2 linked regions of the Homo sapiens genome follow. The protein of the gene in region 2 purifies or fractionates together with the protein of the main gene of each other region. This does not show direct contact. Each region holds a gene or a part of one and is shown on either strand. Other genes may lie near its edges.

Evidence for each region.
Region 1: the proteins of NEO1 (region 2) and TBC1D9 fractionate together in Homo sapiens (co-fractionation; one large-scale study listed by BioGRID). This does not show direct contact.

Annotation. Positions count from the first base shown.
Region 1 is NC_000004.12:140,679,674-140,683,500, forward strand, and holds part of TBC1D9 (TBC1 domain family member 9), read right to left. Parts: intron 171-3,827; coding exon 1-170. UniProt on the Homo sapiens protein: May act as a GTPase-activating protein for Rab family protein(s).
Region 2 is NC_000015.10:73,055,232-73,059,058, reverse strand, and holds part of NEO1 (neogenin isoform 1 precursor), read right to left. Parts: intron 1-3,827. UniProt on the Homo sapiens protein: Multi-functional cell surface receptor regulating cell adhesion in many diverse developmental processes, including neural tube and mammary gland formation, myogenesis and angiogenesis.

The sequences.
Region 1 (3,827 bases), on a different chromosome or scaffold from region 2:
CCCTGACGGGGGACCTTCCCCTTCCAATAGCTGCAAGAGTAATAGTTGACGAGTTTCTCTTCCTCTGGCATCCCAAACAGCCTATGAAATTTCACAATGGCTTCTTTAAACTTCTCCGTGTCATCATCTTCCTTTACATCATTGATTTTGTTGTATTCTGCAATGATGCCCTAATAAGGAATAAAACACAAAGCACACAACTGGTATTAATATGACTAGAGATGTACATATTCCAGAAGAAAAAATTTCTAAGGCTAGAATTAAAAAAAAAAATTGAGGAATGCCCTTCAATGGCAACCCCCAAATTCTAAGCCAATTATTGAGTAGTATTTGTGTACTAAAATATTTTCACATAATATAGATTTTATTATATTTTTATTGGTGCTAATTTTATTTTGTTAAGTTTACTAGGAATGAAGCCTATAGTTTTACTTTACAAATGAAGAGATACAAAGATTTTGCTAGTCCTAGTGTTTTTACTAAGCTTATTATGGTAGAATTGTCTCAAAAGTCAACTTCTGCCTTTCTCCAAGATTAATAAAAATTCATCATGAATGAGCCAGTGAGGAAAGAAAGACCAAACACATGTCACCAACTGACACTCAGCTCCACACTCACTGTCTCAGGGCCATGAATAACACTGGGGAGCCTACAGGGAAAAACGAGTAATCATCTGAGCAGAAAAGGGGTAGATATGAGAGCAAAAATTATATTAGATGCAGGATTTTTGGACAGTTAGACAGGAAATGAAACATCTGCATAGCAAGTGACCAGGTTAATCTACCATTCAATCATTATAATAACTTGAGAAGCCATTTCACTGTTACCCAGTTCCTCTGTAATTCCCTGAAAATTGGCTTCTACATATATCTCGATGGAAAATGCTCCCTTGAATTCCACCTTTGACTTTGTAATCCTCAAATCCCTCCCGCCTCATCTTCATTTTCTCTGATCTCAAGGTAGAACTGAAAATGCATGACCTTTAGAGCATGCAAGTCTTAGATTCGTGCTCCCACCGCATCACTGTATCTGTGTAGCCTTGGCCAACTTCTCAGATTCTCATTGACATGACTGAGCTCTCTGTAGCCCAAGGATAGAAAATTGCAACTGCCTCCTCATACCTAGAATTCCTGCTTTTTGGGCTCTTAAAGCTTCTAGTGCATCCTTGATGCTCCCTAAAAATTTGTCTTCCTAAAATGGATTTGACCACAAAATTCTTACCAAAATACTTAGTGGTTTCTAACCACCACCAGTATAAAGTCCAAAAATCTAGATCATGTACACTTTGTTTGTTTTAATGTTTTAATTTTTATTTTTATTGCAGACTGGCTGCTCCTTGTGAAGCAGGGTAACCCACAGGCAGTGTGCCCAGAGTAGCCTAGACCCATGTACATTTTTGGATCCAACCAATGCCGCAACTTTTTCTCACTGGACTACATCCTACCCAAATGTCCCGTTAGTAACTGTGCTCCAGCCAGCCTGAGGCACCCTTGGGGCCTGAACATGTCATTTCTGCACTTTCCCACCTTTTTGCCTATGGCCCTCCCATTCTACATGCCTGAAATCTGGAATCAGACTGTTCTGTTTCGTGAATCCTACCAAGTCTCAAAGTCTCTTGTGAGCCTTTTCTCAACTATCATTCTTTTCCCCCCACATGAAGTAATGTTGATTCTCTCTGCATTATGTATTGAAATCATTTCCTGAGTCTTATTTCCACTGCAGACCTTTCACCCTGTTGCCGGTAGTTGTGATGCTGCTGAGTGGATGGCAGGAGAAAGGGCTTCAGTCTTCTATAATCTCTGTCACTGTCCTATTCTAGTTAAAAGTAAGCATGTAGACAATAATCATAACAGCAAATGGTGGGCTTACGATGCAAGCACAGCCCCAAGACAAGTCTTTATCCTATTCTTCTAACAAAAGCATCCCAAAGTCCCTCTACACAGTCCAGGAATTACTATATAATAGCTTCTCAAATGGCATCCTGACAACACTCTCCACACTCCAATTTACTTCACATGGCCACTTTCTGAAACAGAGATCTGACTACAGTATTCCCACCTTATAATCTTCCACAGGCTCTCAGTGAAAGAGAAAAGAAATCTGCACTGAATCTTAACCCATAAAATCTGCTCTCAATCTTCCCAAGTCAACCTTTCCAGGTCCAGCATAAATACCACCTTCCCTGTGAAACCAGCCCAATTCCAAATGGGTTCTAAGCATTCTCACGTCTATGTTGTCTTAATTTACATGCTGGCAGAAAATAGCATGTTTATATGTCCTTCTACCACTAAATATGAATTCCAAAGATAAAAAGAATGTCTCGAACATTTTAATCACCAATATCTAGCACCTAAAAGATGTTCAATATTACTAAATGAATCCATGTTGTTGTTTTTCCAAATTAAAAGATATCTTAAGGGGCCATATCTTAGTCTTTATTGTATAATCCAGAGTTGCAGATTTCTAAATCTACAATTGTTTTGGAGTTAGCAATGCCTGAGAAATTAGGTACCAAGTTGCTAACTTCTGTTCCTCTGTCATACTGGAGGGCATTATGGATAGCAATAGAAGTAGCAATGTGCTTCCCTGGAAAAATATCTAACATAAGGATATTTTCCTCTATTTACCACTGATATCACTCTACCAAGAGAACAAAGACATTAAGCTCGATGAAGGCCAGGAGGGAGCTCAATTTTGGACCCAGGCTATTCTAGGGACAAGCAGGCGTTGGTAGTGTTACTTTAAGAACTTCAGACAACTGAAGGCAGCATGAGGGCATGGGACCCGTGGGTGGGAAGGAGAAGTCAATTCAGAAGGGAAAAGGGATGAAAAATGCCTTTCGCAGTTGGCAAATACACCTGTGGCCTATGTGACATTTCAAAGTTGTCAGTGCCTTTAGAGAAGGATCAAAAAATATCTATGAATGAAAGATTAAATAAATGAATGAGTAAATAAAAATAACTGAATGAGAACCTGCTAACAGAAAGCAGCAGCTGGGCCTCCAGGGAATCACCAAAGGCTAACAACTTAGAGAAGCCTGGAGACCCTCAAGTGGGCTAACATGCTATTCTCCTGGGTCACTGTAGTAGCGCTCTTACCTAAAGTCAAAATGAGGAGAATGTGAGAATGAGTGACATATAACAAACCATAAGCAGAAGTATGCTATCTAAAGATCTATTAAATACCACATTTCTAGAGTGCTCACTGAATTTATTTATTTATTTATTTTCGAGATGGAGTTTTGCTCTTGTTGCCCAGGCTGGAGTGCAATAGCTCGATCTTAGCTCACTGCAACCTCCATCTCCTGGGTTCAAGTGATTCTCCTGCCTCAGCTTCCCGAGTAGCTGGGATTACAGGCATGCACCACCACGCCTGGCTAATTTTTTTGTATTTTTGATTTCTGCATGTTGGTCAGGCTGGTCTCGAACTCCTGACCTCAGGTGATCTGCCTGCCTCAGCCTCCCAAAGTGCTGGGATTACAGGTGTGAGCCACCGCACCTGGCCTGCTCATTGAAATTTTAAAGAGAAAATGCTTTTATATATGAGAGTAAATACAGTCAAGAACCATCACTCAGAAACACTCTAGGGTCTAATATACTAGTATCAAGAGACAAGGCTTTGCCAGCTCATTTCAACAGTAAGGCTAATAGTCTCCATAAGGCTAAAATACCAACTTTCTCAACACTAAAAAAGGAAATAATCCAGAATGTAGAACCCTTTCTTAGTTGGCTATAATTTTTTAGCCAGGTAGACTAGATTATGGAATACAGGGATAGAATAGCTCCTTCCCAGGTTCTACAGGTTTTTCTACAGGTTTCGCATAATAT
Region 2 (3,827 bases):
AAGCTATTTTTACACATATAAAATAAAATCATATACAATCATTTGCAAGTAACATAGACGATTTTCCAATCATATCCTACTTTGCACTACAAAAAAAAGATATACAATAACCTGAGCTTTAGCGAATGAAAAAAAGGTGACTTTTGCATCTGAAAACCAGAAATGACCAGTGTTGGAACACAATAACTGAATAGAAGTTATTAAGCTGAAATAAACCCACTGTTCCATTTTATGGACTTCAGAGTAAGAGAAACCTGGAAGGCAGAAGGGACCTTTGAAATTACTTATTAATTAGCTTAACCTTTCAGTTAACAGATGAACTTGCATTTTAAAACATGGCCTTAAGTACCCAAAGTTCACAATTAAAAGTGGTAAAACCTTCAAAAAGTTATGAAAGTATTAGTCAATGGAATTATTCTTAATGACATCATTACTTTTCTGCAATAAATGGAACCCTGACCCCCACATACACACACAAGTTAACTTTTCACCAGCAATCCTATATGGGGGAATCCAAAATATAGAAAGAATATGTTCATCACAGCATTCTTTATCACAGCAAAACAGTAAAAACAACTTCCATATCCATAACAGGAGAATACACAATTAGCAGCAGAATGCAGAGGAATAAAGAACATAGGCTTTGAAGTTGCAAAAACCTGGATTCCAATGCCAACTCTTGCACATGAAAGGTTGTGAGACCTTCGGCAAGGCACTTAATATCTGAGACTCAGTTTCCTCATCTGTGGAATGTGAAGAAATTGTCATCTTCCTCACAGGACTGTATAAAAGATTAAATACATGTGAAAGAGCATGGCACAATGCCTGGAAGTCAGGGAGTGTTCTGTAACTACTACTTTAATTAGCCACTATTATTATATTTGCTCCCTGGAATATTACACACACATTTTAAATAATGGTTATAGGAAAATCTGTATGTACTGGCATGGAACGATCTCCAACATACTAAGTGAAAAAGCAAGTTGAAAAAACAATAGGTAGTATGATCCTGCTTATCTGTAAAAAAATAAAACCATACACACATATGCACATGCAAGGGAAGATATTAAAAGGGGTTACTTATGGGTTTCAAAAATGGAATTTGTGGGTAGAAGTGATAAAATCTTTTATTCTATGTATTTTTATATTGTTTGACTGCAAACAAACATATATTTATGTATTTTTAAATAAGTTTTTAAAATAAAATGATTTAAAGATAATGTGACAACAAAGAAAAATGGTATAATGTCAAAGGAAAACATTTCAAGTTATACATACACCATGATTACAATGTAAAAAGATAATGTGCCATATAGGCAGTAAGTAGAAAGAAATATACCAAAATCATACCAGTGGGTCTGAATGCCTTTTTTTGTCACTATTTACAAAATTTTTGAATCAAAAAAACTCTCTTCATTCTAAATGAATCCAAAATTTGAGCTCTATTTTAAAATCATCTTTCACTAGCTATGTCCATGACAAAGTTAATTTTTCAAAATCGTAAACACAAAACTTCTCCTCACTTCACTTAGCTCTCCGGTCAATATGATCTTACCTACAGTCATTTCCTCTGACTGTTCTCCAATTATTGATGCAATTTTACCCAGAAACCTAAACACTTACCAATGATATGGTAAATAGCTCCCAATCACATGGAAGTCACTAATAAAATAAAGTGTTTGGAAAAAAGACTATTAAATACAGCCTCCATATAATGAGATTTATTAAGGTTACCCCAATATTTTCATTGAGGTAGAGAAAAACTCATAAGGAAGAAACCAGCAATGATCAATTAAGCCAAAAGAAAAAAAAGTCTACACTTTCAAATAATTTAATATAGTATATTTTTAGAGTTCACAAAGAAACACTGAAGCCATTCTACATAGGTACAGTACTTTATAGTTTATGAACAATTTTACATTTTATTTTTCTGACAATCCAGTTAGGTAGGTAAGGTATTATTCTTGCCTGCCTATATCCCCCAACTTACAGATGTATGTGAAGTTGCAGAACCACAAGTCATACCCCATATCCTCTGCCTTCATGTATGTCTTTTCACTATCTCACATCATGTATTAATTTTCATACAGTTTATGAAAATCAGTCATATTTCTTATCTTCTTTGAGCATTCATCCCAGAATTCTATGATCTCTTTTGTGCCTCATTCTAACAGACAGGCAGAGCAACGCCATCAGTCTTTTCTTTTAGATGACTCAGTAAGATCAAAGATCTTTCCAAAGATGACAAAACTAAAAAAACGCTAAAACTACAGCATATCCAGGAGGATGACCAAGATCACAAAAGATCTGGAAACTAAGTAATGTGAAGAGTGGCTGAAGGAATTAAGGATGGTTAACTTAAAAAGGATAAGGTTTGAGGGGAAGGGCAGGGGGGGCCCACACACACATGCACACAGGAAATGTGATTAGACACATGAAGGGCCATCATATAAAGGAATCAGATTTGTGCTGTATGGCCCTACGGGTTAAAAACAAAGGCAATTCAACATTCAGTCAACAAACATTTACTGGTTATCTTCTCTATGCTACATGTTAGTGCTACACTAGGGAAACAAAGGTGAATAAGACAACCCGGCCAACCCCTTCAGAGGTTGAGACTAGCAGAAAAGACAAGAAAATAAGTAACAGAAGATGAAAAGTACTCAGGAAGCTATGGGAACACAGAATAGTGACCATAACTCTCTTTGGAAGAGAAAGCTGGTAGAGAAAAATTCATTGACTAGATAAGGAGTTTCAGAAGTGGACAAGGTGAGAAGTGACTTAACAGAAAGAACAGCATGTGCAAAGGCACGGAGATCTGAAGCTGTGTCGTTAATCTGGAGTGGTGGAATGCAAGGTGCATGTTAGGGGTGACAAGAGATGAGGCTTTATTGGGTTTGGGAGAACAGAGGTAAAGAATACAAAGGGCCTCACAATCTCCATGCCAAAGAGTTCTAACACCCAAGCTACAGAACACTAGTAACAGATTTTAAGTAGGAGAGTGGCATGCTCAGGAAAATATTTCAGGAAGCTCATTCTAGCAGGACAGACTTCTAGAGGGTAACAGTACAGACAAAGAGATTAATTATGGAGCCACTACTGTTAGTCCAGGTGGGGATGAAGATGAAAAGATACCGATTCAGAGTCAAGAAACAGCTGAGAGGTAAAAAGCAAAAAGAACTATCCGCTATGGCAATGGGAAGAGGAGGTCTTCTTGATCTCAGCTTGGGCAAGTGGATGAACAGTGATGACCAAGACAGGCAACACAAGAAGACAAATCCATGCAATCCTTCCAACAACATGAGACACAGGGGCCAGGAACTGGTTTGTTCATGTTTAGAGAATGGGGATGAAGGAAGCACGAGGGAAAATGACACAGAGTTTAACTTCGGACTTCAGTAACCTAAGATCCTATTTAGTGAAGGTACCGAGTGGCAAGTGAGAAAGTGTGGACTAAGAGAGTCCTTAGCTTACAGGTGGCAACTGAGGGCAAACAGAGTATGTATAATGAGATAAGCTTTAGATACTAATATTTAAGTGAGTGAGTTCAAGAAAAGCCAGAAAGACAAATGAAGAATTAATCAGAGAAGAGATTAACCTGAAGATAGAGTAATGCTGAAAAAGGTAAGCAAAGAGGAAAAAATGTAAGAAGGGTGGGGAGGGTGAAAACTACAGTGAAATGTACTGTACAAAGCAACATTTTCTAACAGAAGTTATTCAACACAGAAATGGACTACCCTGTAAGGCAATGAATCACATCATGAAATAAATGGTTCAGGCAGAAGCTACAGAGTCCTCGGTGAAGAATGTTCACTCTAAATAGAGAA